Linked DNA regions of Homo sapiens: all the other regions are linked to region 1. The links come from fine-mapping of genetic effects on gene expression. A gene starts in region 1. Each other region holds a variant in brackets. All regions are shown on one strand. Distances are from middle to middle. Region 1 holds the start of PRDM8 (PR/SET domain 8). Region 2 has its middle 29 kb from the start of PRDM8-AS1. Region 3 holds the start of ANTXR2 (ANTXR cell adhesion molecule 2).

Evidence for each region.
Region 2: its variant is fine-mapped to the expression of PRDM8 in fibroblasts (GTEx, PIP above 0.99).
Region 3: its variant is fine-mapped to the expression of PRDM8 in fibroblasts (GENCORD, PIP 0.95).

The regions. Positions count from the first base shown.
Region 1 is chr4:80,192,630-80,203,225 of GRCh38, reverse strand. It overlaps PRDM8 (PR/SET domain 8), which reads right to left and starts at 5,723. Exons shown (of 4, transcript NM_001099403.2): 1 at 5,463-5,723; 2 at 2,927-3,147; 3 at 1,705-1,936; 4 at 1-1,312. The coding sequence starts at 3,145. It overlaps PRDM8-AS1 (PRDM8 antisense RNA 1), which reads left to right and starts at 5,882. Exons shown (of 6, transcript NR_183912.1): 1 at 5,882-6,098; 2 at 6,238-6,399. RefSeq lists silencers at 201-300, 761-840 and enhancers at 1,203-2,402, 5,880-6,495, 6,496-7,113.
Region 2 is chr4:80,163,353-80,173,948 of GRCh38, reverse strand. No RefSeq gene overlaps it. Among named protein-coding and RNA genes, the nearest start is that of PRDM8-AS1, 29 kb to the left of the region's middle. The variant A/G (reference allele first, on the strand shown) is at 5,612.
Region 3 is chr4:80,064,854-80,075,449 of GRCh38, reverse strand. It overlaps ANTXR2 (ANTXR cell adhesion molecule 2), which reads left to right and starts at 2,221. Exons shown (of 17, transcript NM_058172.6): 1 at 2,221-3,041; 2 at 3,796-3,867; 3 at 5,943-6,014. The coding sequence starts at 2,890. RefSeq lists enhancers at 1,872-2,151, 2,482-2,591 and a silencer at 2,772-2,931. The variant T/C (reference allele first, on the strand shown) is at 5,179.

The DNA.
Region 1 (10,596 bases):
GCAGCGGAGCTCTTGGGCCAGAAGGCGGTGGCGTACAGGAAGGGGCTCTGCTTAGGCAGGCCGCCGCCGCCGCTCGGCAGGGACCCGCAACCTCCGTTCAGGTCCGCGGCCCCCTGGAGCTTCACCGCTAGAGGGTCCGCGGCGGCGGGATAGAGTCTGGTGGGGCCCACGCCGTCGGCGGGGTGGCATGGCTCGAGCGCGCCCAGCTTCTGGCCCAGCACCAGCGGGGACAGCTGCGAGAAAGAGCGTGCTGGCTGCGAGAAGGCGCTTTTGCGCTCGTCCGACGCGGCGCCCTGGCCCCCGCCCGCGCCGCCTGCGGCCCCGGCGCCCGTTCCGCCCCCACCGCTGGTGCTGCCCGCGCTGCCCAGCTGCGGCACCGAAGTGAAGGCGCTGCCCCTCGCAGGACTGCCGCCCTCGAGCCGGCTGGGCAGCGGGCCCCCAGGCCGCGGGGCCAGCAGCTTCTCGGCGCCCACCGGTGACGCGGCCGCGGGCGTGGAGGAGCCGCCGCCGCCGCCAGCGTCCTGGTCCTCGGAGGCGACTCCCGCGCCGTCGGCTGTCCCCTCCTCCTGCAGGCTGGCCGCGCGGGCAGCCTTCTTCACCTCCACGAAGGCGCTGCGCTTCGCCTCGCCCGTCTCGGGACTTGGCGGCGCGAAGAGGCGGCCGTTCTCTTCCAGGCCGAAGTAGCTGCCCGAGGCTCGGTACTGCTGCGGTGTGCACACCAGATCCTCCTTGGAGGCCGGGAGGGGCCGCTCTACGAAGCGGCCCCGGCCCCCTACCAGACCAGCGCCACCGCCGCCCTCCGCCGCCTCCTCCGGGAATTTCCTCTTTCCTTTGCCGCCGCCCGTGGCGATGCCGTCGGGACTCAGCTCCGCCTCCTGGTGGCCGCCGCCGCCGCCGCTGCCGCTACCGCTGCTGAGGCTCTGGGCTGGGGAGCAGCTGCTGCCTCCCCGGGAGTTTTCCAGCTCCCTGGCCAGGTTGTGGAAGTCTGTGGATGGCTTCGCGCTGCTGCCGCCGGCGGCAGCGGATGGGTTGCTGCTTTCCGGGGAGGGGGATGGGTAGTGGTGGAGGGGGCCGGCTTTGCAAAACTTGGGACCCGGGCCTAAAGGTGCCTCCTGCTGCTGCTGCTGCTGGTCTTTGCCACCGCCGCCGCCGCCCCCGTGGTCCTTGGTGCCCACGCCGCCGCCTTGTTCGTCTTGGGGACTTATATCAGCGCTGTGAAGTCTCTTGGGGCAGCGGAAACGCAGATGCGCCACATAGGGGAACTCAAACTGGAAACGTTGGCTGCATTCCAGGCATGTGTAAGGGGACGACCCTGCTTAGTGAGCAAACACCACACACACGCACGCACGCACACACACACACACACGCACACCACATGATTACTCAGCATCGCCCCCAAGCCAGTTTGCCACCATCCCCTTGACAAATCCACCTTCATTTCTCAGGGCCTGAGTGCCTGAGAAAAGAATGACCAACCTGATCTAACTTTCCCTCCTGATTTGGAGGGAATACAGCAAACAAGCAAGTTTCCTCGCTTTATCCTCACCTATCTGTTTAACTTCATTCCAGACTACATCTCAGAATCTTCCTATGAGACACCCGAAGGGAAGAAAGGCGCGCCAACGCGCCGGGTGAGCCCCTGCCGCTCCCTGCGTCTCTCCCCCGCTAGTTAAGGGCCCACACGCCGGTCGCGAGCCAACCTACCATTCATTTTGTTGTGGGATCTAGAGGGGCAGAGCAAGAGTAACTCAGTCAGTTCTTTCCCGTACCAAACTAGTAACTCCTCGTCTTTGGCAATCCTGCGGAGAGAGCGGTAGAACAGCTGTCCGTTTTTTATGTAGGCTTCAAGGTTCTGCTCTTCCTTATCTCTGGCCGATTGGACCAACCGCAGCCACATGAGACCTTCTGAGGAACCATTTGCTGCTGAGGTGTCTACCTGCGGTTTGAAATAAATGAAAGAAGACAAGAAGGAGAGGGGGAGAGGGACCCTCATGAGGGAATGAAATCAGAAGAATCAAGACCATTTCTTCTATGTTAGTCTTTTCCAAAAATTGTCTGAGACCACGCTTCCAAAAGTTTGGCCCAAGCTGGGACCTGTCCTCATGTTTGTAACCATTAGGCAAGATAACCATTCTTTGAAACACTGCATCAATCATATAGTTTATTTAAGTCACCGTTTTTATATATTGGTTGAATACTAAATGAGGAAATTTCTTCTTATAATTTAGTGTTAACCCCTTGAGAGTTTACTTCTAAGTTATTCCACATTACAAAGGTATGGAGAATTTTGTTTGTTTCAGAAATAAAGCAAGCTTAGATCTTAGAAATTATGCTATGGCAATCATGTTCCTAATCTTGGCTAGAACAATTAATAGATTTTCTTTGTAAAGAAGAATAGGAAATGAGAGGTCTGAATCTTCCAATTCAGACATATGGATTTGATGATGCTTTACTGTCAAAACCATAAACATTTTTATTTAAATACAAACTCTGGGCACTAGCTAATATTACCAAAGAAACTAATCTTTAGGGGATGAAGAAGCCTCCTCAAATGGAAGGCAGATGTACCCAATACTTGTCAAAGAACTTGCAGAAACTAGTTAGTATGCAAATAGCCTCCACCCCAGTGAAATCTCCCAGAGTTTAGGAAGTCGTGTTCATCACCAGGATAATCCAGAACTGAAGCACTGATTTAGATATTTCTAACATTCCAAATCAAATTTTGTCATTTATTCCAAAAAATCAGTTGACAATAATTTGAGTTTAATTTTCCTTTTCTAATTTTTGATGTGTGAAATGGGATTGCTTGCATTATTGCATTTTTCCACAGGCAAAACCTATCTCCACTTGTCATTATAATTATTTTTAGTCCATTTCCAACAGGACATTACCCTCATACACCTACACAGCTACAGTGGAGACTTACCCGAAAGATATACGGTACTGTTCTCTTGTCAGTAGACTTGAGAGCTATGAAAGCTATGCTGTCATATAGGGAAGTATGGCTCAGGACACAGGGACCAAATATAGCATTCTCAGGGATGTCGCAGGTGGTGTAAACGCTGGTAAAAATATCTGTCAGACATTGTTGGACAGCCTTGGCATCTCCATCCCAGATGCCTCGCTGGATGCCAGTATCCTCCATCACTGGAGATAGACACACAGCACAAGAAAGTGAGTTATGTTACTGCTTTTAACGCCATTAACCCAAGCAGAACTGTCCAAATACTAGGTAGATTTTCCTTGCACATGCCTGATTTTTGCATAGCTCTTATTTCAAAATTAAAGCAGATAAACATGGCATATTTTAAAGATGAAAACTAAGGGATACTTGTTAAAATAATTAGAATAGTGGGAGATCTGGAGCTGACTGCTTGGGAGAAAGAAAAGAAAGGGCTAGGAAAGACTAGATAATTTTTGCATTACCTTGATGTTGGATTGGGTAGGTTTTAGAGGTGAAGTTCCAGGCAGAATTATATATATATGTACACACACACACACACACACACACACACATATATATATATATACATATATATAATTTTTTAAACCAGCCTATAGACTTCCCTTACTGAAAGAAACTTCTAACCCTTGGGGGAAAGTGCCTGTCTGCCTATGTATTGAACTGGGTGCCCGGGAGCTGATTTTTTTCTTTTCTTCCAAGGAGGGGAACAGCGTTAGTGAGCAGGCGGAGACAGCGGAGCATGGCGAATGGATTTCAAGTGGAATGTCAGGGCCACTAATTCTGTGTCAGCTAACCTTTCTCTGCAGCCTACAAGAAGGGACGTATGTCTGCTCATTACCATAATCCAACACTGTTCCTCTGAGGCTTTAATTAAAAGCAGCAAGCAGAGGTAATTTTTTTTTCTGGACGTGCTTATTTATGGATGAGAGTGAATCCCGGTTACCTTGTTATACAAGGGGGTGGATTGAGTCACATGTGGCTCATGAAGTGAGCAGGTACAGGACAGGCCTAAAGTGTCCCCAGTCTGAAATACTGTGTGTAATGACTGGTAAATTTTCACTCCCCCTACCCCATATGACCCTTTTTGGGCAAGAGGGGGCAGCCCTGCTTGAGCACTCCTCAGTGGGCTCCCCAGCTGTTTAATCCGCAGCAATTTAGAAAGTAATGCCCCAATGCCCTTTATTAAGGTGTCATAAAGGGACATTTTCCTTCCTCTGGACACCCCATACAAGACTTATCACTAAAAAAAAAAAAAAAAAAAAAAAACAAAAAAAAAAAAACCCAAAAAAACCCAGGTATTTAAATTTTTAAACTAGCTTTGAACTAGCTGCATTGCTTAGTATTTCAGACTAATCAAAATATTCCTCCAAGTTTGTTGTTCCCTAATAATGTCACTGTTGGCAATTATTTATGTATGTTTTATATAATTAAAGTAGCAGGAAAGAGTAGATCTAATTCTTTTCCTGCAAAGCTGTTCATTATGGAATAATGTCAGTGACATCTATTTTTATTTTAATTTATATTAACCAGTTAACCTTACACGTGTGATTACAAGGTGTGCTTTTTTCCCCCCATTCCAGCTAACATAGCCTAAAACTTTGGTTAGCCTCATTTTCCATTCATCCTCTTGCATCCCCCAAATGTCAAGTGTTGGGCTGTATCTCCCAGACAGCAGAAATAAGGGAAAATATCCATAAAGTAGAAACTTTTTTATTCTGCATCATCTATCCCTGGTCATTTTTACCCCATACAAGGTAGACATCCTGATTTTTTCATTTCAAATTAAAATACATTTTAAAAACCCCATAACCTCTTATCTCCTTTTCAACGGAATCCTATTCTCCTCTTTTCAATTTCCTTCAATTCAGCGTTTTATTCCCCAATTTCTCTCTTCCTTTTAAAAATCTCTTTCACACAAGCATTTCATTGTGCCGGGAGGTCGCCCCGTCACTTCGGGCAACAGCAGGGACACAGTCATTAAAATGCAGTTCTACCTAACAATACGGCAAAAAGGTCCTCACTACGCCGCGCTAATAGCGGTCGGAGTCGCAGCGCCAGGCGCCACGAGCCTCAAGCCCATCACAATAACCGCTGGGCAAGAGCCTAGGAGCGCCCGCCCGCGTGCGGTCGCCTTTGCCACGCAACGTTTCACAGCTCCGTGCCCCGCTCTAGGCCCAGGTTCTTATCCGCCTGCCCTGGGAATATACCCCAGAGCCGGCGGGGCTTTCTGAAAGCCGGTCGCTGCTGCCCGCCACTGGCCCGTCCCTCTAGGCAGGCATTGTCTGGCGGCCGCGCGCTCCCCAGTCTCCGGCTTCTCCGGCAAAGTGCTCACCACCCGCTCCTCCTTTTGTACAATATTACTGGCAGTAGACAGCCCCTCAAGAATTATTTTTCTCTCTCTTCTGGATAATAAGGAGACGGAAGACAAAATGTTCTACTCTTTCCACCAAACTGTCTTCCTCCCATCCCCCTCCCACATCAATGCAAATAGACTTACCAGGAATAAGGTCAGTATAGAATCTCCCAAATAAGGCCACCTGGAACCGGGAAGATGCAATCGAGTGTTTCCTTTTGCCTATTGTATCAGTGTATTTCCATGTCAAGAGGTGTTGGTGTTGCCGCCTTTTAGGCTCTTCCTGAAGAGATAAGAGAGAGATGGAGAGATGGGGAGAAAAAGATTGGGGGGGTGGAGGGAGGGAGGGAGGGAGAGAGACGGAGAAACGGAGAGAGTTGTACAGATGGACCCGATGCAGTGACTGACTGGCACGCAGACACACACTTTTTGTTTGCTGCACATAATCTGCCCAATGACGCGTGACAGCCCACGTCCCCTCCCTTTAACTCTTTGCTGGGCCAGGCGCTCCCTCCGGCGCCGCCTGCCTCGCAGCTTTTTCCCCCGGCCTGCCCGCGCCCCGCAGATCCTGAGCGCCTACCCCGGGTGGCAACGCCTCTCAGAGAGCGTCCCGGCCCGCCTCCTCCTAAAGCTCGGGCCCTCTGGGACTGCTAGGAGGGGAAAATCGTTTCAGGATTGGAAAGGAAGGTACCAAAATGATTGGAGAGGGCCTTTCCCCGTTTCACTAGGCACTTGGAGAAGCTGTGACAGAGAGCTGGACACCCAGCGCGTGCGGACCCCGTGCGTATTTCCCCGGAGTCCGCGTTCCGTGAAAGGGAGAGGGGTGCGGTTAGCTCCAGGGATTCTCTAGCCCTGGAGCCACCGCTGATTTGCGCAGCTAGTTGCCTGGGGGTGATAAACGGGCGTCGTCTCTCTTCAGGAGCGCCAACACTACCAAGCTTCCCCCTGCAAAATTCAGAAAGGATGCGCTTTGGTGAGAACTTGGCTCAGCCTTCCCGTGGCTTGGGAGATGAGGTTGGAGTGAGAATGTCACCAGACCTCGGAAGGGGACATAACGGTACCTCCTAGTCCCAGGACACGGGTACGTGGGCGGAGGTGGGGTGTGGGAGGTTGGTGGGAAGAGCGCAGGTTACTGGACTCAAACAGTTCCTGTTTTTTTTTTGTTTGTTTTTGTTTTCGTGGGGTTTTTCCCCCCCTCTGCTTGGTGCGTTCTGCGCAGCCCCAGAGGGAGTCTATAATGGGTACTGTTGGCACTCTGAGGTCTTGGGGTTGGGGGGCAAGGGTGATTAAAAATAAAAATGATTACCAAGATGGGCTCCGGAAAGCTTTTCACATCCAGCGGGTGGTGGAGGAGGGGATGGAGTTGCCGAGGCCGTCTCGGGAGCCTCGTTTGTGCGCTAAGCCACTTAGAGGCGCTGACTTGCCCCTTTAGTGCAGCAGCTGATGCTAATGACTTGAGGTCTTTAACAGCCTGCAAGTTGACTCCTTCAACGGGGCTGCAACACCACGTCGCTGGGGAATCTCGGGCTTCTTTTTCACAGTTCAATTCTCTACTCCTAAAGGAAGAAAGGCCTTTGAGTGGTATAGACAGTTTCTCAACTCCTTCAGCCCCACACACACCACCACTACTTTGAAGTGGGCAATCTGTCAGCATTAGGATAAATCGGATTGTGTAGCTAGCTAAAGTGGAGGAGGCAGAACCACAACGTAAGGAGACAGCCTCGTTGTTGTTTTTCCTAGTGTTGAAATAATGTATTTGGGGAGTTGGCAAAGAGCAGCTTACCATGTTAGTTTGATCCTCTCCCAGCTTTGAGACCCTTCTCTGGAACTCAGTGGGGTATTGAGGCTTTGACAGCCTGGTGACTGCAGTCCCAGGAGGCCAGGGGAGGATTTTGCTGAGGAGAAACAAGTGCAAGGACTTTCCCATGAAGTTCATGTTCTTCCTTGTTCTCTCTCTCTCTCTCTCTCTCTCTCTCTCTGTGTGTGTGTGTGTGTGTGTGTGTGTATTTCCTTCTCTTTTCTGGTTAGTACCCCAGGCAAATTCCGAATTGCTGCCTAGAATTAAGCTGAAATTCACAGAAGGAAGGGCTGCAAAATCCCCATATATTCAGAGAAAATGGGGAATCCCTTAGTTTTCAGGTTAGCTACTGACTTTTCAAAGAAAGCTTCTTGAAGTGCAGTTTTATGTACTTTGGCTATGTGCAATTTTATCTACTTCGGCTAAGGTTGGCTCCTAATGACCAAGGCTCAGTGCAATGAGGGCTCTCTCACATGCCTGTATGTAAGAATCTGCAGCTATACTGAGCTACCAATTGTCTTCTGACTGATTGCTCCATTGAATACTAGATTCACTTCTCAGTCTCTCTCTCTCTCTACACACACACAAACACACACACACACACACACACAAAGTATGGACACATGGTCCCCTAATACTTCTTTAAAGAATGGGTGGAAGCATTAGAAATGTGAAAATAATGTCTCAAACATCTGGAAAATAAACCTCAGGTTTGAAGAATAGTGGCCAGAAACTTAAGTTAATTCAGAGTAGAAGAAAGAAGAAAAATAAAGAGCAGAAGAGGCACGGGTGTAAACAACTTCAAGTTAAGAAAGAAAAGTAGCCATAAGAGAGTCATGTGGTCCCTTAGAAACTAGACTGATAAATGCAATATGGTGTGTGAGGAGCAGTGTTTAAGAACATAATTTCATTAATCTGTCTAACAGAACACTCCTTAATGCTTTCTTTTGCTGTTATTTAGAGAATTGGAATTTTATCTTTCAGGAAAAGTCATCTGTCCATGCAAACCATTAAAAAATTATCTTACATATTGTAAATATGTAAGCCTCTACTCCAGAATGTGGACATTTAGAAAATAAACTCTAAATGGAAGGCATTTTTCTTGTGCCTGGCCTTTCTCTTATTAAATACAGAGACCATTTAAACTATATTTCTTTTGAGGTACTAAAACCTTGACTCCAGTTTGTATAAAATAATGTTTTTGGTACTTAAGTTGAGGGTGGAACAGCTTGACCTTTTTATGTCTTAAGCTAGAAAACAGCGACAATTTTATACATCTGAGAAGGGAGCAATTTATTGAGAATCTGGCCAACAGATGCTTCATTTCAGTTTCACTTTTTTGCCCTCTAATTAATTTTTTTCCTACTGCTTTCAGGTAGAGATCCTTAAATATAAGAATTTCTCACATTTTATGAATCTGACCTACCCTTTTTATTATGAGTTAAATAACTGACATAACAAAACAATATAAGTAAGATTAAGTCGAAATTCTTACTTGAAGAGTTTTCTAGTAATTTAAGTGGTACACATTTTGCTTGGTAATATAAATGTCCTAAATGACAATAATTAATAGGGGATAAAGAAAATCTACAAATTATTTTTATTTCTGTAGAAATTTATGGGCTAAAATGGTACATAAACTACTTTGAAATCACTCTGCATTAATACTTACTGGAATTCACTGATACTAAATGAAGGGTTGAGGCATTTATTCAGCCTCAGACAGTACTATAAAAGTGTACCTAGTCAATAGTTTTATGTAATTCATATGGAACAATGGGTTTATGCATATATTTGGAGCTCTCTTCCCTAGGATTTTATTTCCAATTAAGTAATTAGAAGAATGACAATGAAGAGTGGGTATGCTCACCTTGTTCCACTTTAGCAAGGCTCTTTGGAGTCCTGGCAAAAATACACATGTAGGAAACTGTAGTGTTATTTTGGAAGAGTGGGCTGGAGAGAGGTTGATAAATGACACCCCAGGTGGCTTTTATGACCTAAGTGAGAGGGTGGAGAAAGGGTAAGAAAGGGAATTTTAATTCTTAGGGAGTATTAGAATGGGAACACTCTTTCTCTTCCCAGGGTTCAAAAATGGAGCCCAAAATATTTCAACTTCTGTGATAAGAGGCAGGTAACATCTCCAAGAATAATTCACGTAAAGATTATTATCCCATGAGAATGAAAACACACTGATTTTCTTTTTCTATATCTTTCTAGGTCCTGGCTTACCCACCTCTAACTCTATTGCCAAAGCACTATGCCAGCAAAGGCTTGATTGTCAAAAGAGTATGGCAATTCATGGTGAAAGGGGGGGAAAAAACCCACACACTGGAAGATAAGAGGATGCCAATGGAGCAGACAGTGGCAGCTCCTTCCTAAGCTTATTAATTTCCCACAGGGAGGTCTCTGGAAGGGGCTGTGAGGGTTGAGGGAGGAAGAGAATAGATCTTCAAGGAGGAGTATTGTATTACCTAGCCTCACCATTCAGAATAAGGAACTTTTTAAGGGATAAACTTTACTGACTACTTGTACATGAAAGAGAAACAGAAATGATGGGCTGGTCAATTAAGAAAAACACCAGGCCTGTGCCAAAAATGTTGTTCAGAGGGTTGTTAACTCATTTTCTACCACTTTGCCTTTATCAAGAGAAAGATACATGGTGGGTTTTTAAAAAGACCCAGAGGGGTTTGTTTGTTTGTTTTACATTTTGGTGAGTCGAGAAGAGCCATGCTTGCTGAGTTGGGTAAAGGATGATGTGAGGGGGTGGGGTGTGGGAAGGGCTACTCGTTTTTTATAAGTATACATTGCAAACTCAGTTTAGGTCTGTTCCTCACCCTAAGTATTGTAGTTGGCTCACTGGGTATTACATGAGCAAATGTTTTCCAGGCTGGCCCTGGGAAAGCCAGAGACTCAGGGTTGGGTAATTTTGTAGCCTGTGAGGAAGGACTTCAGGCTCCCAACTGTAGGGATCATTACTTCTGACTCATACTTTTCTCTCTTGGGCTTTTCCTCGTAAATGATCCTGCTTTTAATCCTGCTGCTCCTGCAGCTACTACTACCACCATTATCATTACAATGATAATCTACCTTTCTCAAGTTTAAAACTTTCTCTCTTAGCCATTCCCAAGTTTTACTTACACTTGTGTTGGAGTTCAGCTGAGAATGGGATAGTCTTTGAAAGCTGTATGTTATTATCTTCCTCTCCTGGATCTGGGTTGTAGTGAACTGGCTTAATGGCCTCTGAGTATGACTTTTAGAAGGGCTAGCAAACCGAAGTGACATTGTGCACAACTACCAACAGATATGAAATCAGTGCCCCATACTCATCTGTGTGAGTGTGACCTCTGAACCAAATCCAATATCCACTATTTCAACCCCCTGGGTTCTCCCAAATGTTATACTCTTCCCCAGATGAGTGTGTAAAGATCTGGCAAGAAAAGGCTTGGATTTTTGTCAAATCTGTAGGTTCCAAAGTCCTTC
Region 2 (10,596 bases), 29 kb after region 1:
AGAATGGATTTTGGAGAGACAAATGGAGAATAACCATTACATTACTACTATTATTCACAAATAGAATTATCTGAGAACTCTTTCTGAAAACATCTTTTTCATGCACAGTTTCAACTGGAAGTAAAAACTTACTGGGTTTTGTAAACTTAAGCATCCAAGATTTTAAAGAATCATTTCTCAGAGCCCTTTGGCTGGAACATTCCTAGTAGCATTTAGGAAGGATTTCCAGAAGTCTTGGGAGGCTTTGCAAGCCAAAATCTGGAAGAATTTGAGAGTATGCTTTTATTGACTTCCTTTGGGCATCCCCAGGTCTCTCATCATTTGGTGGTTTCCTGTGTCAGCACCAGTCTTACTATGCCTGGTTAGTCACTTGCTGATTGTTTTCAAGGAAGCCAGCCAGGCTTCAACAAAGGGTGACTACCTCAAAACAAATCAGCTGCACAGCAATAGGAACTCCTACTAATGGCTTCCCTTGAATTCACAAACTGTGTAGATTTTAGAATGAAGTAACATTTTCTCTTTCCAACTTTGCCATCCCTGTCTCTTCCTCCTGAACCTGAACTAACCCACAGACAAAAAAATGGAAGAGGACAGTGGTGGAGAAGCATGCTCTCTTTCCTGAAGCCTTAGATTAAAATTATACTCAAGGCCGGTTGTCATGGCTCATGCCTGCAATCTCAGTGCTTTAGGAGACTGAGCTGGGAGGATAACTTGCGACCAAGAGCTCAGGATCAGGTTGGGCAACATAGCAATATTCTGTCTCTGCAATAAATAAATAAATCAAATTATCTGATTGTGGTGGCACGTTCCTGTAGTCCCAGCTACTGAGGAAGCTGAGGTGGGAGAATTGCATGAGCCTGGGAGTTCAAGGCCACAGTAAGTTAAAATTGTGCCACTGCAATCCAGCCTGAGCAACAAAGGAAGACTTTAACTCTAAAAAAAAATTATAGCCAATATCAGAGTCTTGAATATTCACTGTAAACATCAGCACAAACAAAAGCCCGATTTCTAAATCTCATAGAAACTAAGAGTTTGAAAACTTGAGAGGACTGATATAAAGTTGGAAGTCAGTGTTTCAAAGGAGAGAGACAGAGTTAGCTATAGGAAAACAGAAAATTAGGAGTGGAAAGCAAAGAAGAGTCTTGTAAGTAACATATATAGCTGAACAATAAATACAAGTGAAATAGATTGACTTCTAGAATGGCAGTGTGGGAAACTCTGCTGAGCCACTCCTCAGTGAAACTGGTGAAAATTGTGTGTAAAGAAACAACCACTTAAATTCTCTGGAAATGGTCCTAAGGGCAAATGGTAAATAAAGAAATACCTATTAGAGGAAATTATGAATATCTGTCAAGAGAGGTGAGTCTGTGACATTTGAACTGAAACTACTACTTTCCTTGCCCCTCCCAGCTCAGTGAGGCAGAGACTCTACTCCAGACGCTGCAGCCAAGAATATGACTCTTTATATTCCTTAGGTGTCAGCTGCAGGGCTTTCATTGCAATAGGACATAACTTGAGCTTTTTTGGTCCTGCCCGTAGCTGTCTGTTGCTAAGGCTAAGTCTTAGGTGAATACAACTGGGAGGAGGAAGCTTCCTTCTCCCACCCAACACTTTCTTGTAAAAAGGAAGTTCTACCTTGGGTGTGGTGCATTGAGAATGAAACTACCTTTGCAAAAATTATGACAGTGAGAGAAATGTAACCTAGCTGACACTGCCATACTTCTAACTTAACAAGCTAACTGTGTTTGCTCATTCCTGGGTGTAGGCGAAGCTAATTGTGGAAGGAATTTAGCTTATAGTTTAACTTTAAATAAAGGATAATAGTCTCCCCCAAAAACTGACCCCCTCTGGGGACTGAAACCACCTTTGTAGGACTAATGAAAGGCCAAAAGCTTAGGATTATGAGTGGGGAATGAATTCTGGTAAGATGTAGATGTAGTTAAATGATAACCAGCCACAGTTCCGAAGATGACAAGATTTGTAAGTTCTTTAATTGCTCTTATAGATACCAACGGTATTGTCAAAACCCAATATTGGTCTTTGAGGTATTTTTCAGACTTTTGCACTTTGGCTGACCAGTTGATGCCACCTGGATCTGTGACTCATACCAGGGAACTGACTTAACCAATCCTGTGACCCCCTACCCTGAAACTGACTCAGCACATGAAGAACATTTTGGATACACCTATGATTTCATCCTGAACCAATCAGCAGGACCTAGTCCCTAACCCCCTGCCTGCCAAATTATCCTTAGCCTCCGAGCTTTCAATACTTAAACTCTTTCTTTGCTGCAGTATCTGCTATTTTCAGGGAATTGGCTTTTCTGGGCAGTGGGTAAGATGAACCAATTGGGCTGTTAACAGGAATACTGGAGCCTTGGGAGCCTTTTCCTTGGCCTTTGAAGTAAAGTTTCCACACCATGAGTGGCAAGCTGAAAGACCTGCAAACTCCTCTCTCACCCCATCCACCAAGCATTCAGCAATTAGAGCCAGGGTATTACTCAGAGAGAAGCTTGTCATTGTTTCCACCCCCAACTCCGTGCTCTAGCTCAGAAATTTTGCCTAGGGAGAGAATCAGGCCATAAAGCATGCAACTCTTTATCTCTTCCCAAGGGATCTTACTTTATTCCAAACAAAGTGTAGATAATTTTAAACTTAAGGGCACTCTCAAGAACAGTAGAAGTTGTGGTGAAAAGCAATTGAGAGGAAATTTTGGGACCAAATGAAGATATAGCCTAGACTGTAGGCCAGCTAGTTTGTAAGAGAGAACTGGGAAATAAGATAGCTGACAGGAGCTCTCTTGGAGTTAATACAAATAGCAAACACTGATCTCAGAAACTTTCCCATATAAAGTGTCACAATATTATTAGATTTATTTGTATATCTTTTTTTTTTTTTTTTTTTTGAGACAGAGTCTCACTGTGTCTCCCAGGCTGGAGTGCAATGGCACAATCTCAGCTCACTGCAACCTCTGCCTCATGGGTTCAAGCGATTCTCCTGCCTCAGCCTCCTGAGTAGCTGGGATTACAGGCACCTGCCACCATGCCCAGCTAATTTTTGTATTTTTAGTAGAGACGGGGTTTCACCGTGTTGGCCAGGCTCGTCCCAAACTCCTGACCTCAGATGATCCTCCCGCCTTGGCCTCCCAAAGTGCTGGGATTACAGGCATGAGCCACCATGCCCGGCCAATTGGATTTATTTGTAAAGAAAAAATTATGTTCCAGGGCACTGTTGGAAACAATTAAGCAATAGGCCAGAAATTAGTAGAGTTTAACAGCTAGGTGTAATCAGCGAAAGGGTGGGAGAGAATCTTACCAGTACCACTACTATCCCAGGATAATTGTTAGATATACCCAGAACTGTGCCTCACTGATCAGAGAGCATCAGAGGCTTACCATGATGTGTATGTTGAAAAGTGAGGGAATGGAAGCCAGGGAATAGACTTCAACTAAAATAACTCAGCACTCACTAAACAAATAAACAAGAAAATAATAATCGCAATCCTAGAGGGGGGCGGGGTACCAGTTTCCAGAGTTACTAAGATATATTATCTAAAATGTCCAGTTTCTAACAACAAATTATGAGCATGCAAAAGAATGGAAAAGTATAAATTGTATACTGGATGAAATACATGCAACAGAAACTTCTTATCAGGGTAAATTAAACAATTAAATCAAAAAGCAGAGATTATCAGACTTGATTTAAAAACATGCTTTAACTATATGTTGTCTTCAGGATAAACTTTATATTCAAAGACATAAATAGATTGAAAATAAAAGGATTTAAAAATATCAAAGACCAGGTGCAGTGGCTCATGCCTGTAATTCCAGCACTTTGGAGGCTGAGGTGGGCAGATCACTTGAGGCCAGGAATTTGACACCAGCTTGACCAACTTGGTGAAATCCCATCTGTACTAAAAGTACAAAAATTAGCCAGGCATCGTGGCACACACCTGCAGTCTCAGCTATTTAGGGAGCTGGGGCATGAGAATCACTTGAACCTGGGAGGTGGAGGTTGCAGTGAGTTGAGATGGTGCCACTGCACTCCAAACTGTGTGACTGAGTGAGATCCTATCTAAAAAAAAAAAAAAAAATTCAAGCAAACAACAACCACAAGAAAGCTGGCGTGGCTATACTAATAACTAAGTTAAACAGTTTTGCAGGATACAAAATCACTCTGCAAGAATAATTTGTATGTCTATACACTTACAATAAACAATATGAAAATAAGTTAAGTAAACAATTTCATTCATATTAGCATCAGAAAGAATAAAATACCCACAGGAGCAAATTTAACAAAATAAACGCAAAATTTATACCCTGAATACTACAAAATATTGTTAAAAGAAATTACAGAAGATTAAATAAGTGAAAAAACATACCATGGTCATGGATAGTAAGACTTAATATTGTTAAAATGGCAATATGTTGATCTACAGATTCAACATAATTTTTATTGGAAACCCAGCTGACTTTGCTGACATTGATGGCTGACTCTAAACTTAATGCGAAATTGCAAGGAACTCAGAATACCAAAACAAACCTGAAAATAATAAATAAGGAGAGCTTATATGTCTTGGTTTCAAAACCTACTACAAAGCAATTGTAATAATAACAGAGTGATACTGGCACAAGACAAACATTTTTATTTATTTGCTTAGGTGCCATAGCAGAATATCACAGACTGGATGGCTTAAGCAACAGAAATGTATTCTCTCACAGGTCTTGAGGCTGAAAGTCCAAGATCAAGGTGTCATCAGGAATGGTTTCTGGTATGAACTTTCTTCCTGAGTTGCAGATGGCTGCCTTTTCACTGTCTTCTCCTATGTGAGCATGCACTTGTGGTGTTTCTTTCTCTTGTTCTAAGGATACCCGTCCTATTGGGTTCAGGTCCTACTTTTATGACCTCATTTAATCTTCATTACCTTCTTAAAGGCTGTATCTCCAAATACAGATGGGTTAGGGCTTCAATACATGTATATGGGGGGCAGGAAACACAATTCAGTCCATAACACAATGCACAGAATTGAGAATCTAGAACTAAACCCATATCTCCATGGCCAACTCATTTTGTGCACAGGGTCCTAAAACATTAATGGGGAAAGAATAATCCCCACAAATTGTGCTGGGACAATTGGATAGCCACAGGCAAAAGAATGAAGCTAAACCCTTACCTCATACCATACACAAAAATTAACTCAAAATGGATCGAAGTCCTAAAAACTGAATGTTCTTAGAAGAAAACATAGAGGTAAAATCTTCATGATTTTGGATTTTCTAAAGAATTCTATAATATGATATTCAAATTAAAAGCAACAAAAACATTGAGAACTTGCAAATCATATATTTGATAAGAGTCTTACAGCTACAGTATAGAAAGAGCCCTTGCTACTCAATAATAAAAAAGTGATGCAATTAAAGAAAGAGCAAAGGATTTAAATAGACATTTCTCTAAAGAAGATTTAAAAATCACTAATAGGCACTTGAAAAGATGCTCAATATTATTAGTAATGAGGGAAATTTAAATCAAAACAACAATGAGGTATCATTTCACACATACTAGATTGGTTATAATAAAAAGGACAGATAATAACAAGTGTTGCCAAGGATGTG[A/G]CAGTTCTTCAGAAGGTTAAGTTATCATATGATCCAGAAATTCTATCCTTTGATAACATATTCAAGGGAGTTTAAAAGATATGTTCGCACAAAAACTTGTATGCCCATGCTCATAGGATCACTATTCATAACTAAAAAGTGGAAACAACCCAAATATCCATCAACTGATGAATGAATAAACAGAATATCTTATATGTATACAATGGAATAATATTTACCCATAAAACCTAATGATATACCGCCACACACTACAACAAGAATGAACCTTGAAAACATTATACTAAGGAAAATAAGCTAGGTACAAACTGACAAATATTTTATAATTCTACTTGTATGAAGTATTTAGATTAGTAAAATTCATAGAGGCCAAAAGTAGAACAGTGGGGTGAGGAGGAAAGGAGAGTTATGATTTAGTGGGTACAGAGTTTCTGTTTGAAACAACGAAAAAGTTCTGGAGATGGATAGTGGTGAAGGTTGCACAACAGTGTGAATGTAGTTAATGCCACTGAGCTGTACACTTAAGGAAAAGTGTTAAAATGGTAAATTTTATGCACGTATATTTTATCACAACTGCACACATTGCAGGTGAGATAATATTTTGTGATGGGGTTTTAATGTGGAGGGAGGGTAAAAAGACACATATGGTGGTAATGTATCTATAGTCTACCTAAAGTAGTGAAATACTTATTCTACGTAGACTGTGCAAAACTAGCATGCTATCTTATAAGCCCTAGTGCAATTGCTTAAAAGCTATACAAAATATATAATAAAAAACAATGGATAAACCTAAATCACTAGCTACCACTTCACAACACTAGAATGGTTGTAAGAAAAAAATAATAATAAGTGTTGGCAAAGATATGGTAGGTAATTTCTCAAAAAGTTAAACACAAAGTTACCATATAATCCAGAATACTAAAAAATGCTTAACCTAAAATAGGAAAGGGAAAACAGGAGAACAGAAATGAGATACACTGAACAAAAACAAATAATAAAATGGTAGCTCTAAATGCAAACTTTCAATAATTGTATTAAATGAAAATGTTCTAAACACACCAATGGAAAAGACAGGGAAAAAAAACCACCACAAAACAAATTTATGCTGTCTACAAAATAGTGTGTTCAAATATATTTGATCAAAAAATATTAGGTCAATAGTAGAATGATAAAAATGAACACCTGAAAACATTAATCAATAGATATCTGCAGTGGCTATATTGATTACTGATATAGACTTTATAGCCAAAAAACTACCAGGAATAAAAGGGTCAGTATATAATGTTAAAGGAGTCAAATTATCAATAAGATAAAACCATCTTCAATCTGTATGCACCTAGTAATAGTAATTAAGTTACACAAAACAAAAAGGAATGGAAGTTAAAAGGTAAATAGACTAATATACAATTATAATTGAAGACTCCAATACTATTTTCTCAGTAACAGAATAACTAGTAGACCAAAAAATCAAGCAGGATATAGAAGAAAAAAGTATCACTATCGAACAACTGGATCTAATTGGCATTTATAGAACACTCCCCCAAACAACAGCAAAATATACATTTTTTCCCACATGCAATTGGAATCTTTACCAAGATAAGACGTGTCCTGGAACATAAAAAAAAATTAACAAATTTAAAATATTTGGAATATATGAAGATGTTCTCTGACCACAGTGGATATTAAACAAGAAACAAATATCAGAAAATTAACAGGAAAATTTCTAGACCCTTGGAAGTTAAATAACACGTATTGAAATAACCCATGTATCAAAGCAGAAATCTCGAGAGAAATTAGAAAATATTTTGAAATGAAGAAAAATGAAAATACATAAATTTTTTTTTGATGCAACTAAGTCACTGTTTGGATTAAAATTTATAACAACAAGATACATCTATCAGAAAAGAAGAGATCAGGTGCAGTGGCTCATGCCTATAATCCCAGCACTTTGGGAGGCCACACTGGGCAGATCGCTAGAGCTCAGAAGTTTGAGATCAGTCTTGGCAACATGACTAAACTCCATCTCAAGAAAAACACAAAATTAGCTGGGCATAGTTATGTGCGCCTGTTTTCTCAGCTACTTGGGGGCCAAAGCTGGAGTATTGCTTGGGAGATGGAGGGTGCAGTGAGCTATGTTTGTGCTGCACTCCAGCCTGGGTGACAAAGTGAGACTTGAAGGAAAGAAAGAAAGAAAGAAAGAAGGAAGGAAGGAAGGAAGGAAGGAAGGAAGGAAGGAAGGAAGAAAGGAAAAAGAAAGAGGGGAAGGAAGGAAGGGAGGGAGGGAGGGAGGAAAGAAGGAAGGAAAGGAAAGGAAAGAAAAGAAAGAGAGGGGGAAAAAACATTCTAAAAAAAAAAAATCTAAGCTCCCACCTTAAACTAGAAACAAGAAAAAAAAGAAACAGAAAGAAATAGTAAAAATAACAACATAAATCAAATGAATAAAAAGCAGAAACACAATAATCAAGGAAAACACAAGCTGATACCCTTAAAAGATTGATACAATTTATAAAGCTCTAGCAAGATTTACAAAGAAAAAAGAGACAAGACACAAATTTCCAGTATCAGGAATAAAAGAAGAGACACCATGACTGACTTTGCAGGCTCTAAGAGGATACTAAGTTAATACTATTGATAAATGCAACAAATCTGACAAATTATGTGAAATTCAAATTACTTGAAATACATCAAATTACCAATACTTACCCAAGATGATATAGATAATATGAATGGTCCTACAGCTATTAAAACCTCGAATTCAAAGTTAACCAAAAAAGCTTTCTGAAAAAGAAATCTTTATGCTTAGGTGTCTTAACTGTTAAATTCCACTAAATGTTTAAAGGAGATATAACACTAATGCTAGTTAAATTCTACTAAATATTTAAAGGAGATATAACACTAATGCTACATACTTTCTTCCAGAAAATGGAATAAAGGAGATATTTCATAATTTATTTTATGAAACCACGAATAAAATTCAAACAAAGGTGATACAGGAAAAAAAATTCCAAAGACCAATATATTCCTCATGAACATAGACACAGTCCCTGGTAAAATATCAGGAAATTGAACACAGCATTATATAAAAGGTAAACAGGAAACCAGCACTAAGGAAAAATGCAATTTACTCAAATAATGCAAGGTTTGTTCAATAATTGAAAAGTAATCTGTGTAACTCATCATATTGACAATCTAAGAAGAAAAACCCACATTTTATCAATTGATCCTGAATTGGCATTTGACAATATTTGATGTATATCTGATATAGATACAGATATACAAATTTTTTGAGACAGTCTCGCTCTGTCACCCAGGCTGGAGTGCAGTGATGTGACTACAGCGCGCTGCAACCTCTACCTCCCAGGCTCAAGTGATCCTCCCACATCAGCCTCCTGAGTAGGTGAGACTACAAGTGTGTGCCACCATGCCTGGATAATTTTTTATTTATTTTTTGTAGTGACAGGGTCTCACTATGTTGCCAGATCTGGTCTTGAACAGCTTTGCTCAAGCCATCCTCTTGCTTCAGCCTCCCAAAGTACTTGGATTATAGGCGTGACCTACCACACTGGCTTATATTTTTAAAAAGTTGTATTGTGTACATATGTGCAGTGCAACATAATGCTTTGATATATGTATACATTTGGAATAATTGAATCAAGATAATTAGCATGTACATCACCTCAAATACTTTTTTTTGTGGTGAGAAAATTTAAAATCTGCTCTCTTAGCAATTCTCAAGTACACAGTACATTATTATTAACTATAGTTACCATGCTATACAATAGATCTTCAGAACTTATTTCTGCTGTCTAACTGAAACTTTAAACCTTGTGACCAGCATCTTCCCATACTCTCTTTGTCCCCAGCCAGCCCCTAGTAACTGCCATTCTACTCTCTACATCTTTTAATTCAACTTTTAAAGATTCTGCATATAAGTGAGATCATGCAGTATTTGTCTTTCTGTGCTGGACTTATTTTACTTAGAATAATGTCCTCAAGTTCCATTCATGTTGTTACAAATCACAGAATTTTCTTCTTTTTTTAAGGCTGAATAGTATTCCATTGTGCATATGTACCACATTTTATTTGTTCATCTGTTGATGGACACTTAAGTTTATTAAATATCTTGGCTATTGTGAATAATGCTGCAATAAACACAGGAGTGCAGATATCTCTTCCACATACTGATTTAATTTCATTTGGATATGTACCCAGAAGTGGAATTGCTGGTTCATATGGTAGTTCTATTTTTAATTTTTTGAAAAACCTCCATATTGTTTTCCATAATTGCTATACTAATTTACATTCTCACCAGCAATGTGCAAGAATTCCTTTTTCTCTGCATCTTCACCAACATCTTCTATCTTTTTTTAAACATAAAAGGCATTATAATAGATGTGAAGTGATATTTCATTGTGACTTTGATTTGCATTTTCCTGATGATTAGTTTCATAAACCTGTTAGCCCTTTCAATGTCTTTTGAGAAATGTTCATTTGGGTCCTTTGCCCATTTAAAAATCATGCTGTTTTCTTGTTATTGAGTTGTTTGGCTTCCTTACATATTTTGGATATTATCCTCTCATTAGGTGTATGGTTTGCACGTATCTTCTCTTATTTCGTAGGTTGTCTCTTCACTCTGTTAGTTGTTTTCTTGGCTGTACAGAACCTTTTTAGTTTGATGAAATCCAGTTTATTTTTGCTTTTATTGTCAGTGCTTTTGGGGTCATATTCAAGAAATCTTTGCGAAGACCAATGTTAAGAAGCTTTTTCCTCTATATTTTATTATAGTAGTTTTGTAATTTCAGGTGATGTATGTATATGGGGTGATATAAGGGTCTAAGTTTATTATTCTGCATATGTTCAGTATCCCATTCTTGATAAAGAATTTCAGGCTGGGCACAGTGGCTCATGTCTGTAATCCCAGCACTTTGGGAGGCCGAGGCAGGCAGATCATGAGGTCAAGAGATAGAGACCATCCTGGCTAACATGGT
Region 3 (10,596 bases), 130 kb after region 1:
AATTATAAACAAGACCTAAGACCATGCCAGGCAAAGGTCAAGTCACACACTCCTACACTTAAAAAATAAACTATATTCTAACTGCCAAAAGGGTTTTCTTTTTCTCTAGCATCTAAACAAACACTGGCCTCCAGATAAGCAATATTGAAACAATTGCATCTTACTGACTGCAAGACACTAACTAATTAATCCTCCACCCCTACCCCTGTTCCACAAGCCATAACTACAGCTCTGACTGGACAAGAGACTGATTTTAATAACTCTCCTGATAAGAGACCACTGACCATAGACTGGTTCTGGCTGGTTTACAGAGGCTGTGGCACTGAGTGCCTTCATGTCTTCTGTTTCACCTTTTGACATATAGGGCCTAATTATAATACATTTAATTGTTAAGTCTCCACCTCAAAGTGAACATGAGACATATGCAACTTGCATGTTTGCTTACTATTCATGTTTGCTTACTAAACATGCATGTTGCATATGTCCCATGTTCACTTTGATGTGGAAACTTAACCCACCTGCTTCAGAAATATGCATAGTTCATGTACCCCTTGCTTCAGAAATATTCATAGTTCCTCCTATAACCTGTTGAATATGTATACTTGGCCAACTCATTTAGCATAAATTCCTGTTCCACCCTTTCCTCCCTCAAAGTGCCTGCTTTTTGTCTCTGCCAGAGGCTACACTTCCCAGCCTGTCAAGATGTCCAGCCTGCAGCTGTAACCCTTTATAAGAAATGAAGTTCTCCTTTCCAAATTTATGAACCTCAGGATTGTTTGTCAACATGTTGCTACTGCAATAGTCTCCTAACTGCTCTCCCTGTTGTCACTGTTGCTAACTCCAAATTCATTGTCTCATTGCAGCCAGAATGATCTTTGAAAAACACAGATCATATCAATTCATCTGCCACTCCACTCCTGGGCTTAAACCCCTCTAATAACCTCCTGTCACACTCAATATTAAATATCTGAATTCCTTATCTCAGTAAACAAAGCATCACATAATCTGGCCCTTGCCTATTTGTCTTACATCATCTTACCTGCAAAGCTCCAGCTACACAGTTTTTTTTTTTTCTTTTTTGAATATGCTAAGCTAATGTCTATGGACCTTTGCAGTAACTCCAAATGTTTCCCCTTAGAGCTCTTGGAATGACTGGGTCTTTTTTGTTAGTCACTGAGTCTGTCATTCTTTATCATCACAATATTTTAAATTTCTACAGGCCACCTTTCCAATATGGACATTTTTTTTCCTTGCTTATGTATTTATTTCTTATTGTCTGTTTTCACTCTTCAGCCAGACTGTCAGCTTCATGAAAGCAAGGGCTTGTTATCTTGTTCTGTGCACTAACCTCCACTTCTGGAACAGTGCCTAGCAAATAATAGGCACTCAATGAATCTTTGTTAAAGTAACTAATTTTTATCTTCAAAGAGCTGACATATCTGGTTGTATATCAAATATAATAAATGAAAAGTTAAATACATATGGCAACAAACAGAAGAGATGTATATGTAAGTACTACATAAAGCATTGATTTTGTTAAAAATGAAAAGGTATTTAGGTTCTAAAAGCCAGTTTTGACTAAGGGAGGGCGGAAGTCACGGAGGTGGGGGGAAGAGAGAGGAGGGAGAGCAGAACTAGTAGACAGAGGATTTGTGCACAAACTTGAGTGCTTGCACAAGTTTTGCAAAGGAGACCTAGCTTGCCCAAAGCTGAAATTCTCCAAAACTGGAGCTTGCAGGGAAATGACAGTGGGCTGAAATATTTTGAGGTACAACTTTCCACTCCCAAAGAGGCCTGCTATCCCCTCCCACTCCCCACTCCGGCCTTTCCTTGGCTTGGCTTTTTTTAAAGAAAAAAAAAAAAAAAACTAAGCAGGTTTCTTTAGAAGAAAAAGAGGAAGTTCATAAAGAGTGTTTGTGGTAGTAGGGGTGGGGTGGAGTGAGGAGTGAGGAGGCCGTCACCTCCCATGGAATCCTTAGTCTTGGGTTTGTGAACCACGCATGGGGGCTGTTTTAGCACAGCTGCTAAAATAGGCCAGGCCTGCAGGACATACGGGTATGTTTAGTTTCTAGATAACTTTTGTTTTTCTAAACTCCTTCTTCCCTTTCCCAAATCTGGCAAGCGTTAGTCATCTTCAACTCGGCAGGAACCCACAAGTGTGCATGTGTGGCTCGGAGGCTTCAGCTGGGGCCCCGCCCTCGTCCCCAGGCGCACACTGACACACGCAGCCCAGACCCGGCCCGAGCGGGCTCCTGCCCTCGGCGTGGCTTCTCTCCAGCCGGGAGTCCCAGGGCCAGCTAGCCTCCTCCCCTAAAGGGGACGGCCTGTCAGCGCAGTGCCAGAGTCCAGCACCGGGAGGAAAGTTTCGGAGTGCGGAGGGAGTTGGGGCCGCCGGAGGAGAAGAGTCTCCACTCCTAGTTTGTTCTGCCGTCGCCGCGTCCCAGGGACCCCTTGTCCCGAAGCGCACGGCAGCGGGGGGGACTTCAGCCCTCCAGGCGGGGTGGGTTCCAGGTCCGGGTCCGAGGCGGGCGCTGGAGGCTCGGCCCCAGGCCGGAGAGGAACTCCTTTCGCGAGCTGTCGCCGTGGGCCCGCATTGTCTGCAGGAACTCTCCGGAATCGGGAGGGGGAGGACTGGATCGCGCTTCCACTGGGATTCGTCAAGAGTTCCGGCGGCAGCTGCGGCGGTGGCGGAGACTCCCTTTGTCCTCTCAGGACCTCCCTCTCTCCCTCCCTGTCAGCTGGTGGGTCCCGCTGCCGCAGGCGCCGGCGTCTCAGCTGCTCGCCGCCCCCCACCCCAGAGTGCGTGCCGGGTGACTCCCGCCACCTTTGCGACCCTCCTGAGCTTAGGGGACTGCGAGCGGGAGGGAGTCTCAGGCCCCCGGCCGCAGGATGGTGGCGGAGCGGTCCCCGGCCCGCAGCCCCGGGAGCTGGCTGTTCCCCGGGCTGTGGCTGTTGGTGCTCAGCGGTCCCGGGGGGCTGCTGCGCGCCCAGGAGCAGCCCTCCTGCAGAAGAGCCTTTGATCTCTACTTCGTCCTGGACAAGTGAGTGTGCGAGGGAGGTCCAGGGTCTCCTGGTGAGGGCGGCACTGGATCAGCTGGGGCTGAGGCTGAGATGCGTGTGCGCACCCCGGGGAGTGGTGTTGGAAACCCGCGGAGGGGTGCCCTGTTGCTGTCTTCTTTCAAAGGGCAAGCGCGTTCGGATCTGTGTGGGCGGAGATCAGCCGGGTCGGGGGTAGTGATTGGAGCCCCGGGCTACTTGGCTCTTTGGGGAGTTGGGGTATTCACTGTTTGCCAGTCTTTTGGCCTCTTGGGAAATGGGAGTGTGGCCTCTTGCGGGCCACGCTCCATCGGCCACAGAGTCCTTACCCACCTCCTCGACCCTGCTCGTACGCAGGCTAAAGTTTGCCTGGTTTTATCCTAATCATAGCGCTTTCATTGGAGCCAGGAAAAGCCTAGGGTTAACATGCCCAATGTGGTTTGCATTTCCTGCGAAGAAAGGCTTTTGTGTTTACTCTGAAGAGCTGGGTTCCACTCTAAACAATTAGGCAGGTATTTACCCACCCCAGAAAACGGGCTGACTTCTTCTTCTTCTTTTTTTTTTTGACGGAGTCTTGCTCTGGGACTGACTTCTTTAACTCTGGGTACCACCAAAGTTTCAGCTACAGATACCCTTACTTAGCTTGAAAAAGAGGCCAGGTGCCCCTATGTTCGTGGCATTGAAGAAGGAACCATTTCAAAATGTTTACTTTTCAGTTCCGTGTTTTGTTTCTCTGATCAGTTCAATTTCATCTTTCAGGTCTGGGAGTGTGGCAAATAACTGGATTGAAATTTATAATTTCGTACAGCAACTTGCGGAGAGATTTGTGAGGTATCTTTCTTACTTTACTTTTCTAGGCAGTGGAGAAGTAGAGCAAAGTGTAGAATTTCCCTTTTCTGAAACCTTTTATAGGAAAAACTTTTCCTGAAATGTTACTTTTAAGTGCCTCAAGGTCGTATTGCACACATGCTGTTATTAGGACAGCCCTTCAGTCCTTGAGGGCTTATTTCATCTGGATCCCAGAAACTTGGCTCAGACTCTGGGGAAGCATCTTCAAATACTATTCCAAATGTCTTTTTCTTTCCGAATTTTCATCTGTTTTGAATTTCAGTTATGCTTTCTCATAATTTATCACATTAAAAAAATAAATTTTATGCGAATAGTATCCATAATATATTTTTCTTTCCACACATTTCTTAGCATTATAGAGGCCCTCATTAAAACAAACAAAAAGTGTTGGAAAACTTCAAATGAACATGTGTTAATAACCCGCTACCAGAAAAGGCACTTGTGTGTGTGTTTAAAGCAACGACTTGTGTTTACACAATGTGTGGGTGTGTGGTTGGTTTAAAATTTAACTGTTCTATATATGCAATAAGCATCACCAGGAAAGACTGGTTTCCTCTCCTATAAAAAGCATTACTGGTATGAAATCCAGCTTACTCTCTTATTTAGAGGTAACTAGGAATTAGTGGCATCTCCTATTTAAAAATAACCTCAGGACACTAGGCTTTTGAGGCTTTTTTTTTCCTTCTTTTTTTTTTAAAGAAAAAATGCAATGAGCAAACACAAGTTTATCAAGATAATGGAAAGGACATGAATAGGAACTGTATCATTAAATATTGCTTCTTTCAGTCTTGTTAGCCCAAATGTTTTCTGTAAAACAGGCTTGGATGATCAAAACATTTTGAAAGTCATGTTGCAAGTAACTTCAAACAATCTGTAGAGGCCTAGGCAATCCTTGCTTTCAGTTATTGGCAGCAGTAAAGTTATCCCTATAAAAATGTATGCCTGTCCATGTTCAATCATCAGTCCCTTGCTTAAGAAGCCAAGTTTAACACTCATTTCTGGACAGGGTCTGAGGTAAAACTGTCTAGGAAAGAAAAACAAACAAGATCCTATGTCCCTAAATGTCAAAGGCAGAACAGACAGTTGTTTATAAATTTTCTAATTTAATCCTTCAATGTGAAAAGGGTGTCATGTAGATTTTGATCAAAAGCAATGAATCACATCACTACAACATTTTAAAGAAGCAAGCTCTTATCTTAACTCATTGATCTGGTTTTTAAGTTGGAATTCTATAATACACAGTTGTCTGGCTCAAGCCTAGTTGCTCAATTACTAACAATACATTGTAGGAAG[T/C]GAATAAGGGGTGACTAATGAAGAGACTGACTTTTAAAATATGTATAAGCCTTTGAGAGGATTCTGATTTTCAGTTTATAGATTCTAGTTTCATATCTTCAGTTTTGAATCTTAGTAGTAGTTGCAGAGAGTGTCCGAGAAGCAAGAACCGTTCTGTGAGAGACATGCCTAAAACTTGAAAGATATAGCTGACTGGGGCACTTGTTGCCAATGGAAAATAGCATGTTTGAGACTTAGAAAATAAAAAATGCCTAAGCAGAAAGTGATTTATTGTTTCTTTCACATTTTCCATGACTCTTTAAGTAGTCTTACTTCAGGATGACTTTTTTATAGACTCATATCATAGTTATGGTCATTAAGTCAAACTGGGTACTCTCCACCCATAAGTGTTGATAACCATAATCACTTTGAAGGGCCTGGCCACCTTTAAAGGAAATGTTGTAGAAAACCAAGGGAAGAGGAATTTTCTACGAAAGAATTTTACATCAGCTTAGAATTTATCTTTCCAGTTAGTCTCTCTCTAAATGCAAGTCCTTATGGGTCATGGAGGAGTATGTGAGTGCTGGGAAGCGTTGACTAAATCCAAAATGACTTATGCAACAATGTTAAGCAGAGTTCGTCTATTTACTTAGGGAATGTCATTTAAAAGAAGCCTGGACCATTCAGTGAGACCAATTTTAAATGAACCTCCCTAACTATACATCTGTATCGTATCAATATTTCTTTTTAAAAATGTTTTAACTGCCTCTTTTCTTATTTTGCAGCCCTGAAATGAGATTATCTTTCATTGTGTTTTCTTCTCAAGCAACTATTATTTTGCCATTAACTGGAGACAGGTTAGTGCATTATCATTTCACTGCAGGCTTTTAGTAGAGATGAATTTTAAAGGCATGATTGATATTTCCAAGTGGTGATTCAGGCCTCTCAGTGGAATCAAGCAGATGCACAGACAATTCAGTTCTCTAATAGAAGGGAAAGGAGGTATGAGTAATATAAAAGAGCAGTTAATCTGAAAATCAATATCATTTATAGTGGCTGTGGAATGTGCAGTGAAATCTAGATCCCTGTCTTAGTTGTATATTCACCACTTCCTACCTTCCCCGGCCTCTCTGTTACTGTAAGTAGTTCTACATTTTTCTTGTTTAGATATAATATATTAATCAACCAGGAATTTGAAGAACATTGAGGGGGAGAAAGATATGGATCCTTTTGGATAATTTCCTAGATTCAGTAGACATCCTGGATTTCTGGTCTTTCTCTGAGGTCCATTAATGCTGAATATATTCACCTTTATAAGGGAACTTAGTATATATCAATATGTATACCAATATATCTCTATATCTATCTACCTATCTATTTAATCTCCTTAGTGTTTTTTAAAAGGTGTCTTTTTCAGACCAATGTCACAGTATTTCATATGACCATTTCTGTGTCATTCAAACAGTGTCAATGACAAGTTAGAAATAGTCATTGATATATTTTATGTTATTTTTATTTTTTGAGACAGAGTCTCTCTCTGTTGCCCAGGCTGGAGTGCAGTGGTGCTATCTTGGCTCACTGCAGCCCCCACCTCCCAGGTTCAAGCAATTCTCATGCTTCAGCCTCCCGAGTAGCTGGGATTATAGGCACATGCCACCACACCTGGCCAATTTTTGTATTTTTTTAGTAGAGACGGGGGTTTCACTGTATTGGCCAGGTTGATCTTGAACTCCTGACCTCAAGAGATCTGCCTGCCTTGACCTCCCAAAGTTCTGGGATTATAGGTGTGAGCCACCACACCCCACCTCACTGACATGTTTTAAAGAATGGGATCCATAGTGGGAGGGAGCTTTTATTCTTCATTTTTATGTCTACTTTATTTAACAGAGTATGTAAGCCAGTTTTTGGTCAATAAATTCTTGTTGAATGAATGAATGAGTGGTTTCCTGTTATTTTGAAATAAAATTTTTCTGAACTGTAGTTTCAGCAAGGGAAGCTGGTGTACTTTGTTTTGCATGATATGTGAATTTCTGAAAAGTTAACTGTAAAAACAGTTTTTTGTAAATTAAGTTTTCCCTTGAAAAGGTCAAGAAATCATAATATCTAAAGGAACTGGGGGAGAGAACTTATTTATAATTCACTTAATTGATTTAGAAAATTATCCGTATAAGATTTTAATCTTTGTGCTTTTAGTTTTCCTTTTCCTAGAGAGGAAAATCTCCCTGCAGATGCTGAGTGCAGCCTAGGATCTTGTCTTCCCATTGATACTTCTCCTTTCTTTCTTCTTTTTAAATTTAATTTAATTTTAATTTTAAGTTCTGGGATACATGTGCAGGGCATGCAGGTTTGTTACATAGGTAAACGTGTGCCGTGGTAGTTTGCTGCATCTATCAACCCATCACATGCATTAGCTATCTATCCTGATGCTCTTTCTCCCCTGCACCCCTCACAGGCCCCAGTGTGCGTTGTTCCCCTCCCTGTGTTCATGTGTTCTCATTGTTCAGCTTCCACTTACAAGAACATGCAGTGTTGGGTTTTCTGTTCCTGTGTTAGTTTGCTGAGGATAATGGCCCTCCTTACTTTCTTGTGTGGATGAGAATGAATCTCATCAGGAGCCAGAGCCATGGTAGTCCACAACCCGTGTATGGCAGCTTTCTATGCTCAGTGATTTAACAGTTCTCGCCTTTATGAAAATAAATTTTCTCCATTGCCCAGCTTAATTTCCAAAGAAACAGCCTTGTATCTAGCCAATCCAGAAAAAAAAGAACCATTTTAACATTTATGGCATTCCTATATATAGAAAAACACTTAGCATCATGCCAGGCTTGTAGAAACTCTCAGTCATTGATAGCTGCAAACATTGTGCCAGGTTCTTTGCTAGACACTTTGCATATGGTTCCTCAGCACTTTGAAGATGAAGTGTAGGTCACTGGGTGACCAGATTGGTATTGCTTAGATACGCATGGAAGGGGTTTAAATCTTTAACCCACGTTAGTGATTCTTCTTTCATCATTGGTTGAATCTAATAGGGGAGACACTGAGATAGGTTACAGAAGAGGCCTTTCTTTCTTTCTTTTTTTTTTTTGTGAGACAGAGTCTCGTTCTGTTGCCCAGGCTGGAGTGCAATGGCATGATCTTGGCTCACTGCAAGCTCCACCTCCCAGGTTCACACCATTCTCCTGCCTCAGCCTCCCGCGTAGCTGAGACTACAGGCACCCACCACCACGCCCGGCTAATTTTTTGTATTTTTTAGTAGAGACGGGGTTTCACCGTGTTAGCCGGGATGGTCTCGATCTCCTGATCTCCTGACCTCGTGATCCGTCCGCCTCGGCCTCCCAAAGTGCTAGGATTACAGGCGTGAGCCACTGCACCTCACCAGAAGAGGCCTTTCTTTAAAGAGGCAGCATAATGTTGCAGCTAAGAGTCACTAGACCAAATCTACCTGCGTGTAAATCCTGGCTTTCCAATTTACTAGCCAAATGGTCAAGGATAAGTTGCTTAACCTCTTTATGCTTCTTCTTTTTTCATCTATATAATGACGGCAATGATGATGATGATGATAGTAATACCTACCCCATAAAATTGTTACATGAATGAAAGTTGATGAATGTGAAGTATTTAGAACAGAGTCTGGTATATAAGTTTTCAAGAGATAAAGGCTTTATCACTATTATTATCATCTGGAGCTAGGCAGTATACAGTATTTTAATGATCAGAGAAGAATCATGCTTACATAAAGAAAATATTGCCCTTCTTAAAAGGATTTATAATATTCCAAAAGGAATTTTAATAACACTACTTGCAACTTGTTTTATACATAGTTGGTTCCTCTGTCTCTTCCTAAATATAAACACTTTAAGTTTTAATAAATTTCACTATTTGTGGCATTTTTAATTAGTTTGGGGTGGCAGAAAATAACACTGAGAATGCCTAGGCTAGAGTTCCAGTTTTGTCACTGACTGATTTGGAAACTTGGGGCAAATTGTATAACAGTGTATCAGTTTTATGTCCATAAGGTGCAGGACATAAAATCTTCCATATTTGAGTTTTTGTGAAGATCAAAATAAGATAATGTATATAAAGTTCCTTTGTATAGCATAGGACAACCTCCAATAAAGGACATTATTTTCTTGTTCTATATTGCTATTTTACTAATTTTATTTAATTAAATCAGTAACTTCTCAAGTTTCTGTGGTCCTCTATATTTGGATATAGGGTCACTTTTCCTCCATTACACACTTTTAAGTGTGAAGAAACAATTTGCATATTATATGCAGATCAGTAAACAAATGATTCCACAACTATTGTGAATCTTTGTTTCAAAGCCTAGAAATTGGAATTCTGCATATAAACTATTAAAATCTTGATGTTATATATTACAATCACAAATAGATCAGAGTGTGTGAGGAAAGCAAAGGTTAAGCAAAGAAAACCAAAGGTTAAGCACTGCAGGTTTCACAATTTTGTTTCTAGCACTCATAATTCTTCACAATCTTGGTAAATAAGTAGCTCTTTCATGTTTCTCAGAGTGTTGCTGAAGATTCTTAGTAGAGATGAGGCAAGATTAGAAGGTAGTAAATACTTACCGTAGGGCTGTGTCTTCTGTTATGCTTTCAGCATGGCATCCGGTACTATGTAAATGCATGAATAAAGTAATAAACATGCCAAAAAATGATGTTATGCATTTTATATACTCGTAACTTAAAAACCTTATTCTTTTAAATACTTTAATTTGAAACACTGCCTTCTTTTCTCTTGCTCTCATGATTTTTACCCTCCATATGTCTGTTAGTCCATTCCTCCACCTACCCACCCACCTACCTAAAGACTTGCTTATCTTATATTCAATGCATTGAGTACTGTGGAACCTGGGGTAACACAAAGATAAGTAATCTAGTGTGTGTGTGAGTAGAGGTATACACATGCACATAAATAGCCCAGGGATGTATTATAGGGTTAGGTAAGAGAAAAATGCCAAGTGTTGATTCAGTATGGAAATACCCAGCCTTTCAACAGTAGAGAATTTGGAATCAAGACTAATTAAAAAGTATTTTTAGTTATTATTTTGCATAATTGGGGATAGTGAATTAAGCTCAGTTCTGTTAAATATTATGCTAATACTGTAACAGAGATTTAGTTGAAAACATTTATTGAACAATTATTATGCACCAGGCAGTGTGCAAAATACTTTCCATGCATTGCTTCACTTAATCCTCATATGAACTTCCTGTAATAGATACTGTTATTACCTCGACTTTACAAATGAAGAAATCAAAACTGACAATGATAAAGCGGCTTGTCCAAGCACACACAGTTAACAAGTTGCAAGCAGTATATTGGCTACAATAATCTTTTAAAGTTAAAGCCGATATTCCACTCTCATGCTTAAAACAATTTCATCACTTAGACTGGAAAGCCAGTGTTTCCCAAAGGCCTAAA